Linked DNA regions of Homo sapiens. The protein of the gene in region 2 purifies or fractionates together with the protein of the main gene of each other region. This does not show direct contact. Each region holds a gene or a part of one and is shown on either strand. Other genes may lie near its edges.

What was found. Proteins that work in one complex are often made in the same cells at the same time.
Region 1: the proteins of PDS5A (region 2) and USP13 purify together in Homo sapiens (affinity purification with mass spectrometry; 2 studies listed by BioGRID, with this or other methods). This does not show direct contact.

The regions. Positions count from the first base shown.
Region 1 is NC_000003.12:179,781,889-179,785,639, forward strand, and holds part of USP13 (ubiquitin carboxyl-terminal hydrolase 13), read left to right. Parts: intron 1-2,159; coding exon 2,160-2,253; 3' UTR 2,254-3,751. UniProt on the Homo sapiens protein: Deubiquitinase that mediates deubiquitination of target proteins such as BECN1, MITF, SKP2 and USP10 and is involved in various processes such as autophagy, endoplasmic reticulum-associated degradation (ERAD), cell cycle progression or DNA damage response.
Region 2 is NC_000004.12:39,866,225-39,869,975, reverse strand, and holds part of PDS5A (sister chromatid cohesion protein PDS5 homolog A), read left to right. Parts: intron 1-513; coding exon 514-582; intron 583-2,978; coding exon 2,979-3,115; intron 3,116-3,751. UniProt on the Homo sapiens protein: Probable regulator of sister chromatid cohesion in mitosis which may stabilize cohesin complex association with chromatin. May couple sister chromatid cohesion during mitosis to DNA replication.

The sequences.
Region 1 (3,751 bases), on a different chromosome or scaffold from region 2:
TCTCCTAGGTACATTGTATGTTATCTTATTTGGTTCTCACATTGGTCTTGTAAAGGGTATACTGTTAACGCCCTTTTGCACATCAAGACACCGAGACTCAGGGAGGCTGAATAGCTTGACCTTAGCTAGTAAGTAGCTGTGTGAGAGCTGATATTCAAAGCCACTTTCAACTATCATACCAAGGTGACCTCCCAAAATAAAGATGCATCCTGCAGCAGAATGTATGCTGTAATTGGAACCTCCCTAGGATTGCCATATTTAGCCAACAAAAGGAAACAAGACAGGAAAAACCAGGATGCCCTATTAAATTTGAATTTCAGATAAATAATGAATAATTTTTTAGTATAAATAAATTTCAAATATTCTATGTCCCAAATATTATATGGGGCATGCTTCTACTGAAATTTCTTATTGCTTACCTGATACTCAGATGTAACTGGGTAACCTGTGTTTTATCTGGCAGCTCTAAACCTTCAGTGCTTTGCCTTACTACAGCCTTGCAGTTGGCTTCTCAGCCTTCTTAAGTAGAATTGTTAAGTGTGTAGTGAACCGGAAATGAGACAGTTGTGGAATGAAAGGCTGCTGCTTTCTTCAGAACCTTCTCCCTGGGCTGGATCCCTACAGGACCTACTGGTGCCCTTCCTGCAACTCCAAACTGAGTAGCCTGTGGGTTGGCACTTCTGCTTGAGGGCAGTGCTCAGGCCATGTGGATGCTGGAGAAATGCCTGAGGGTGGCCTCTTGCTCCATGGCTCCCACTGCAGGAGTGGCCATTTCCCACCTGGACTCCATTGTGTTCTTCTGTGGTGTGTCTTTTTAGTTTTGTCTTCTTAACTTGGTAAAATAGTTGAGCACAGGAATTTATCTCTTTTTTTTGAGATGGAGTTTCACTCTTATTGCCCAGGCTGGAGTGCAATGGCACAATCTCAGCTCATTACAACCTCCGCCTCCCAAATTCAAGCAATTCTCCTGCCTCAGTCTCCCAAGTAGCTGGGATTACAGGCATGTGCTATCATGACTGGCTAGTTTTGTATTTTTAGTAGAGATGGGGTTTCACTATGTTGGTCAGGCTGGTCCCAAACTCCTGACCTCAAGTGATCCACCCGCCTTGGCCTCCCAAAGTGCTGAGATTACAGGTGTGAGTCACCGCACCCGGCTGGGACTTAATCTTTGTGGTGAATTGTTTTTATTACAAACACGATAGCGCTTTAAAAAACACTTTATGGAATGAAGTCAAAGAAAATAAAATAAAAATGCTTTTTAAAAGAAAAATAGCTTAATTATAATTTTAAAAGCAATAAAATTCATAGTAAATAATTTATAAATATAAAAATATACAAAGAATATGTACCCTGGAAGCCTAACAATAACCATTGTCTACATTTTGATATACTTTTCTTTGTTTTATTGTCTCACTGGAAGAAAGTATATATATGTCTATATGCACACATACTACATATAAATAAACACACGTATTTACAACTTAACTAAAAGCTTAAAGTATGTGCAGAGTGCATACAATTTTTTAACCAGTAATTTCCCATTTCATATTATATCATGGTTATTTTCTCACTTTGCCAAATATTCTTTGAAGAAATTTTAATAGTTCTATAATAGTTCACTGCATGGATTTTTTTAAAATTCTGGTTTTAAGCTAGTTTTATACTAAGACTGAAATAAGCATTGTTGTACATAATTCTTTGACTCAATTTCTCAGGCTATCTATGGATTTCTATAAAGGGAGTTATGGGATCAAAGGTTAAAATGTTTGGAGGTTCCTGATACATTTTAGTAACTACTTTTTGATGGAGCTTAAGAATCAAAAAGCAGTTGTAGCTGGGTATGATGGCATGTGCCTGTGTTCCCAGCTACTCCAGAGGCTGAAGCGAGAGGATCCCTTGAGCCCAGGAGTTCGAAGCTTCAGATTGTGCTACCTTACTCCAGCCTGGGGAATAGAATGAGGCCTTGTCTCTTAAAAAAAAAAAAAAAAAGCAGTTGTGATTCCCTACCAGCATTCTGTCCCTTTTTATACAACGAACTTGAGTATAGTACCTTAAAACATCATGGTTAAGTGTTGTGCGCCATATGATTTAGTGACTTCTTTGTGTAAAGTTTCCTGGAACTGACTTAAATCCATCAAATGCTTCTGTCTTATTTTCAGATGGGTGATTTACAATGACCACAAAGTTTGTGCCTCAGAAAGGCCCCCTAAAGACCTGGGCTACATGTACTTTTACCGCAGGATACCAAGCTAAACCTCAAATATAAAAATTGGCGAAAAGAAGCCATACGCCTTTTTAATTTGCCAAAAAAAAAAAGAAGAAGAAGAAGTTGAAACAACTAGACATGAAGGAATATATGGGGTATTTATCGTTTATTTAAAGAGCACGATCAGTTGACACCTTCTGAAATAGAACTGAGAAGAAATTTCTATTAGTGATGATACACTATTATATTGTAGATAGTTTTTATAAATGTTCAAAAAGATGATGATATTTAAAAACAAAAAAAGTATTCATATTGCTGGTGGAGGATCTGCCATCAGCACATCAAAAATGGGGATGTGCCCCCAGCCCTCTATTTTGCTTTGGGGGTCAGTGATAGTGGCCTCTGGAGAAACCAAATAATGTGGCCAGTGGTGTGGCCTTACCCACAACAAATGAAAAGCCCACTTGTGTTTCATATAGAAAATCAGCAGTTGGGTGGGGCTTTATTTGTGACATAATTTTTTTCATGACATACAATAATTTCTGATGTATCCATGTAGATATTATGCTCTGTCCATAATAGAGCCTCTGCAATGAAAGATATTTTTAATTTGTCACATTAAAATTCATAATACGATTGTGTGAATGTGTGTGAGACTGACTGAGAGTGTGAGACTTTTACTAGAAAAGTGAGTCCACTAGAAAATCTGTGACAAGTTGGTTTTTAAAGTCTGAACAGTTGATATTAAGCATATCTGAAAAAAGCAAGTAAATATTTTAACAAAACTATGACTCAGGAACCTTCGAGAAGATTAGTTCCCCACTTAGATTTTTAAGGAGTAAAAAGGGCTGAGTTATGCCTTTAAGTGCTGTCAAGAATTCACTTGGGTTTGGGACATTTGCTGGTGTAATGCTAGATGCCCACAGCAGCATAATATTGTACTTTGTCAAAGGTAGGTAAATTCTCTGTTTCTCAGCAGCCCTTTCCCCAAAAGGTATGGTGTTTATTTTTAGTAAAAATAGCTAATCTCTTTTTACCATCTCACATGATAACTCTTTGGAGTCATGTCAAGTGCCCCAAATTTGTCTGTGATTTTCCCATCTCTGAGCTCTTTATCTGCCTCCGTTTCCTTGTTTTTCTGGGGCCAGAGTCTCATCTCTGCCTTTTTTTGGTGTATCACCTTCTGACTTGCCTTCATTGCTTGTCTGATGTGACCAACAGTGTGATCTTGGACACACTAAGGATTTTAGATGCAAAGAAACTTTATACAACATTATGAAAGACTATCCTTTCCATTTTGGTTATTTCAGCATTTTAGTTGCAACCTGGGATTAGATTAGAGTTTCCAACGTGATGAAAAGTGGAATGATAGCATTCTATAATTTCCATAATTTTCCTACTGGTCCGTACCAAATTCTAGAGTCTCTGGAGTTGCTATTTCAGAGTATTTGGTCAAACGAAAAAGAATTTATTGCTGTCTGTTTAACATGTATTTGTTTGGTTGAAAGGATCTTTTTAGAAACTGTAGGAAAATAAACAGAACCA
Region 2 (3,751 bases):
CACCATGCCCAACTAATTTTTTTGTGTTTTTAGAAGAGGCAGGGTTTTGCCATGTTAGCCAGGCTGGTCTCAAACTCCTGACCTCAAGTGATCCACCTGCCTCATCCCCCCATAGTGCTGGGATTACAGGCTTGACCCTCTGCACCCGGCTGAATATCCAGTTTTTCTAGCACCATTTGTTGAAGAGACTGTTCTTTCACTAAAGATGGTCTTGGCATCCTTTGTCAAAAATGAATTACCATATATGCAAGGGTTTTCTGAGTTCTCTATTCCATTAGTCTATATGTCTATCCTTGCCAGTACCAGCCACACTGTCTTGATTACTGTAGGTTTTATAGTAAGTTTCAAAATTGGGAAGTATGAGTCTTCTAACTTTGTCCTTTTCCAAGCTCTGGTTGGTGATGTTCCCGTAGGTTTCTCAGAGGCTGTGTTGATCAACATGAAAAACTTAATCAGCAAAAACATAAATTTTTTTTTTCATGCTAATAGCTAAATTTATTCAATTGTCTATAGTCAACAGGTGAAAAGAATGGAAAACTGTGGTCTCCAGATGAAGAGGTTTCCCCTGAAGTACTAGCAAAGGTAAATTTGTTTAGGCCTTGATAATCTTCATGTTTAAAAAAGGGACATTTTGTAGTTATCTTCCTCACCTTTAAAAAATTTAATAAACAGAGATGGGATCTTGCTGTGTTGCTCAGTTTGGTCTTGAACTCCTGGGCTCAGCTGATCCTCCCACTTCAGCCTCCCAAAGTGCTGGGATTATGAGCTTAAGCCATCGTGCCTAGCTGGGAGCCTTTTTTAATTAAACCTAATAGTTAATAAGCATTTGTTAAGGAGGTACTTTATTTTAAAATCCATTGCAAAAAATGGTTTATTGAAGACATTGTGGTTGTCATTGTTTATTACATGTCAGTGTCTTCTGCCTGCTAAAGCAATCTTAATGAGGCTGTTTTATAGAGAGACTGTTTATAGAATGACGGTGCTCAGAGGCATCTTAAATCCAGCCTCATCACCACTATCTACAAGCATATGAATATTAACTTGGCAAAGATAGGTAATTGTCAAGCTGGGCACTGTGGCAGATTTGGGATTTAAAATAAGATTGTATCATCTTCTTTGATAATCTGTTTCACTTTGTGTTGCTTCATCATCATCATATATTCTATCAATTCATTTTTCCTGGTTGTCAATAAATATAATAAATAATACTTTGATTTGTTTTTCACACCTATTATCCCAGCACTTTGGGAGGCAGAGCAGGAGGATCGCTTGAGCCCAAGAGTTCAAGACCAACCTGGGCAGCATAGTGAGCCATGTCTCTACAAAATATTAAAAATAATTTAGTTGGGCTAGGCATGGTGGCTCACGCCTATAATCCCAGCACTTTGGGAGGCTGAGGCAGGCAGATCACTTGGGGTCAGGAGTTCAAGACCAGTCTGGACAACATGGTGAAACCCCTTGTCTACTAAAAATACAAAAACTAGCTAGGCATGGTGTTGCACATCTGTAATCCCAGCTACTTCGGAGGCTGAGGCAGGACAGTCACTTGAACCTGGGAGGTAGAGGTTGCAGTGAGCCAAGGTCCCGCCACCGCCCTCCAGCTTGGGCAACAGAGTGAAACTCGGTCTCAAATAATAATAATGATAATTTGGCCGGGTGTGGTGGTGCATACCTATAGTTCCACCTACTCAGAAAGCTGAGGCAGGAGGATCGCTTGAGCCCAGGAGGTCAAGGCTACAGTGAGTTGTGATCATGCCAGTACACTCCAGCCTGGGTGACAGAGCAGATAGAGATGATTGTTACTAAATTTGTGACATTTAATAGATGTAAAGCTCAGTTGAAAAGTGGCAGATTTGGGATTTAAAATAAGATTGTATCATCTTCTTTGATAATCTTTCACTTTGTGTTGCTTTGTAGTCATCATATATTCTATCAGTTCATTTTTCCAGGTTGTCAATAAATATAATAAATAATACTTTGATTTTTTGGCTAGCTTTTTCACATATATTGGTAACAATCTTTTGACTAGACATTTCTAAGTAATTATGACTACCAATAATTACACAAAATCCCATTTTTTTGGTCACAATGTTAAATGAGACTGAATCAGACTTGATGGTTTCTTCAAAGTAGTTTTTCAATACCACAAAACTGAAACTCTCAAGTTATTTTCAGTCACCACAATCAGTACAGTTGTGGGGTGTGTGTGTGTGTGTGTGTGTGTGTGTGTGTGTGTGTGTGTTTTGGTTTTTTTATGAAACAGAGTTTTGCTCTGTCACCCAGGCTGGAGTGCAGTGGCACAATCTCAGCTCACTGCAACCTCTGCCTCCCGGGTTCAAGCAATTCTCATGCCTCAGCCTCCTGAGTAGCTGGGACTACAGGCGTGTGCCACCATGCCTGACTAATTTTTTTTTTTTTTTTTTTTTAGTAGAGACGGGGTTTTTTAGTATAGACACGGTTTCACCATGTTGGCTAGGCTGGTCTCAAACGCCTGACCTCAAGTGATCCACCTGCCTTGGCCTCCCAAAGTGCTGGGATTACAGGCGTGAGTCACCACCCCCGGCCTGTATAGTTTAAATTGTTGTTTTTAAAGTATATGTTTTCAAATAGTTTCAAAATCTTGCACAAACATCTAAGTATGAGAAGCCTAAATTCTGGAACCAGACTTTTAAGCAAGTTATCTATGATAATAATGTGTCTCAATTGCCTTATCTGTTGGAAAAAAAAAAATCTTCCTCATAAGAATTTTTTGGGAGATTAAATAAGTTAATACATTTACAGATCTAAGAAAAGTGCCTGGCACTGGTTAAGCACAGAGTAAATATTAGTTCGTATTGTTGCTGTTATTATCCCATAGACTTATTTAATAAAATGTCTGCTGATGGAGATGAGTAATCTCATTAATCTAATTAAATTAATTTTCCCTTTAATTGGAATTTTAAGTTGCTTTCTTTTTTTAGCATGTTAATATTTTATAGGTACAGGCAATTAAACTTCTGGTAAGGTGGCTGTTGGGTATGAAAAACAACCAGTCTAAATCTGCCAATTCAACCCTTCGGTTATTATCAGCGATGTTGGTTAGTGAGGGTGACCTGACAGAGCAAAAGAGGATCAGGTGAGATTTTTCTTTCTTTCCAGTTTTCTTAGTGCTGAAATTTTGGTGGAATTTACATAGGAATTATTTACCTAATGAATACTGAATGGTGTAATTACACCATGATCTTCAGGGTCAGATCTTATGTACTCATTTAGGGTTTGTCTGTCTGTCAGTATTGTTATTTTAATAGTGCCAATATATTTTTCTTCATTCCTAAAGAAGAGGAACTTTTTCCAGTAAATACATAATCATAATCACTATATTGTACTATTACAGTTAGCATCAACATTTGGTTCAATTAAACAAGTATTTGTTAAACTTCTACTTCATAAAACACTGTGAAAAGCATTGCAGCAAAAATAAGTAGGAAAAGTCCCTGCCTTCAAAGAGCATCCCTGTATTAAAGCGATTAAATAAGTGGAGTGACTTGAGTCCCATGAAAGTAATAAAAATTTAAGTGGCAGCCAGGCGCGGTGGCCTATGCCTGTAATCCCAGCATTTTGGGAGGCCGAGACGGGCAGATCACGAGGTCAGGAGTTCAAGACCAGCCTGGCCAATATGGTGAAACCCCGTCTCTACTAAAACAAAAAACAAAAATTAGCCAGGCATGGTGGCACATGCCTGTAATCCCAGCTACTCAGGAGGCTGAGGCAG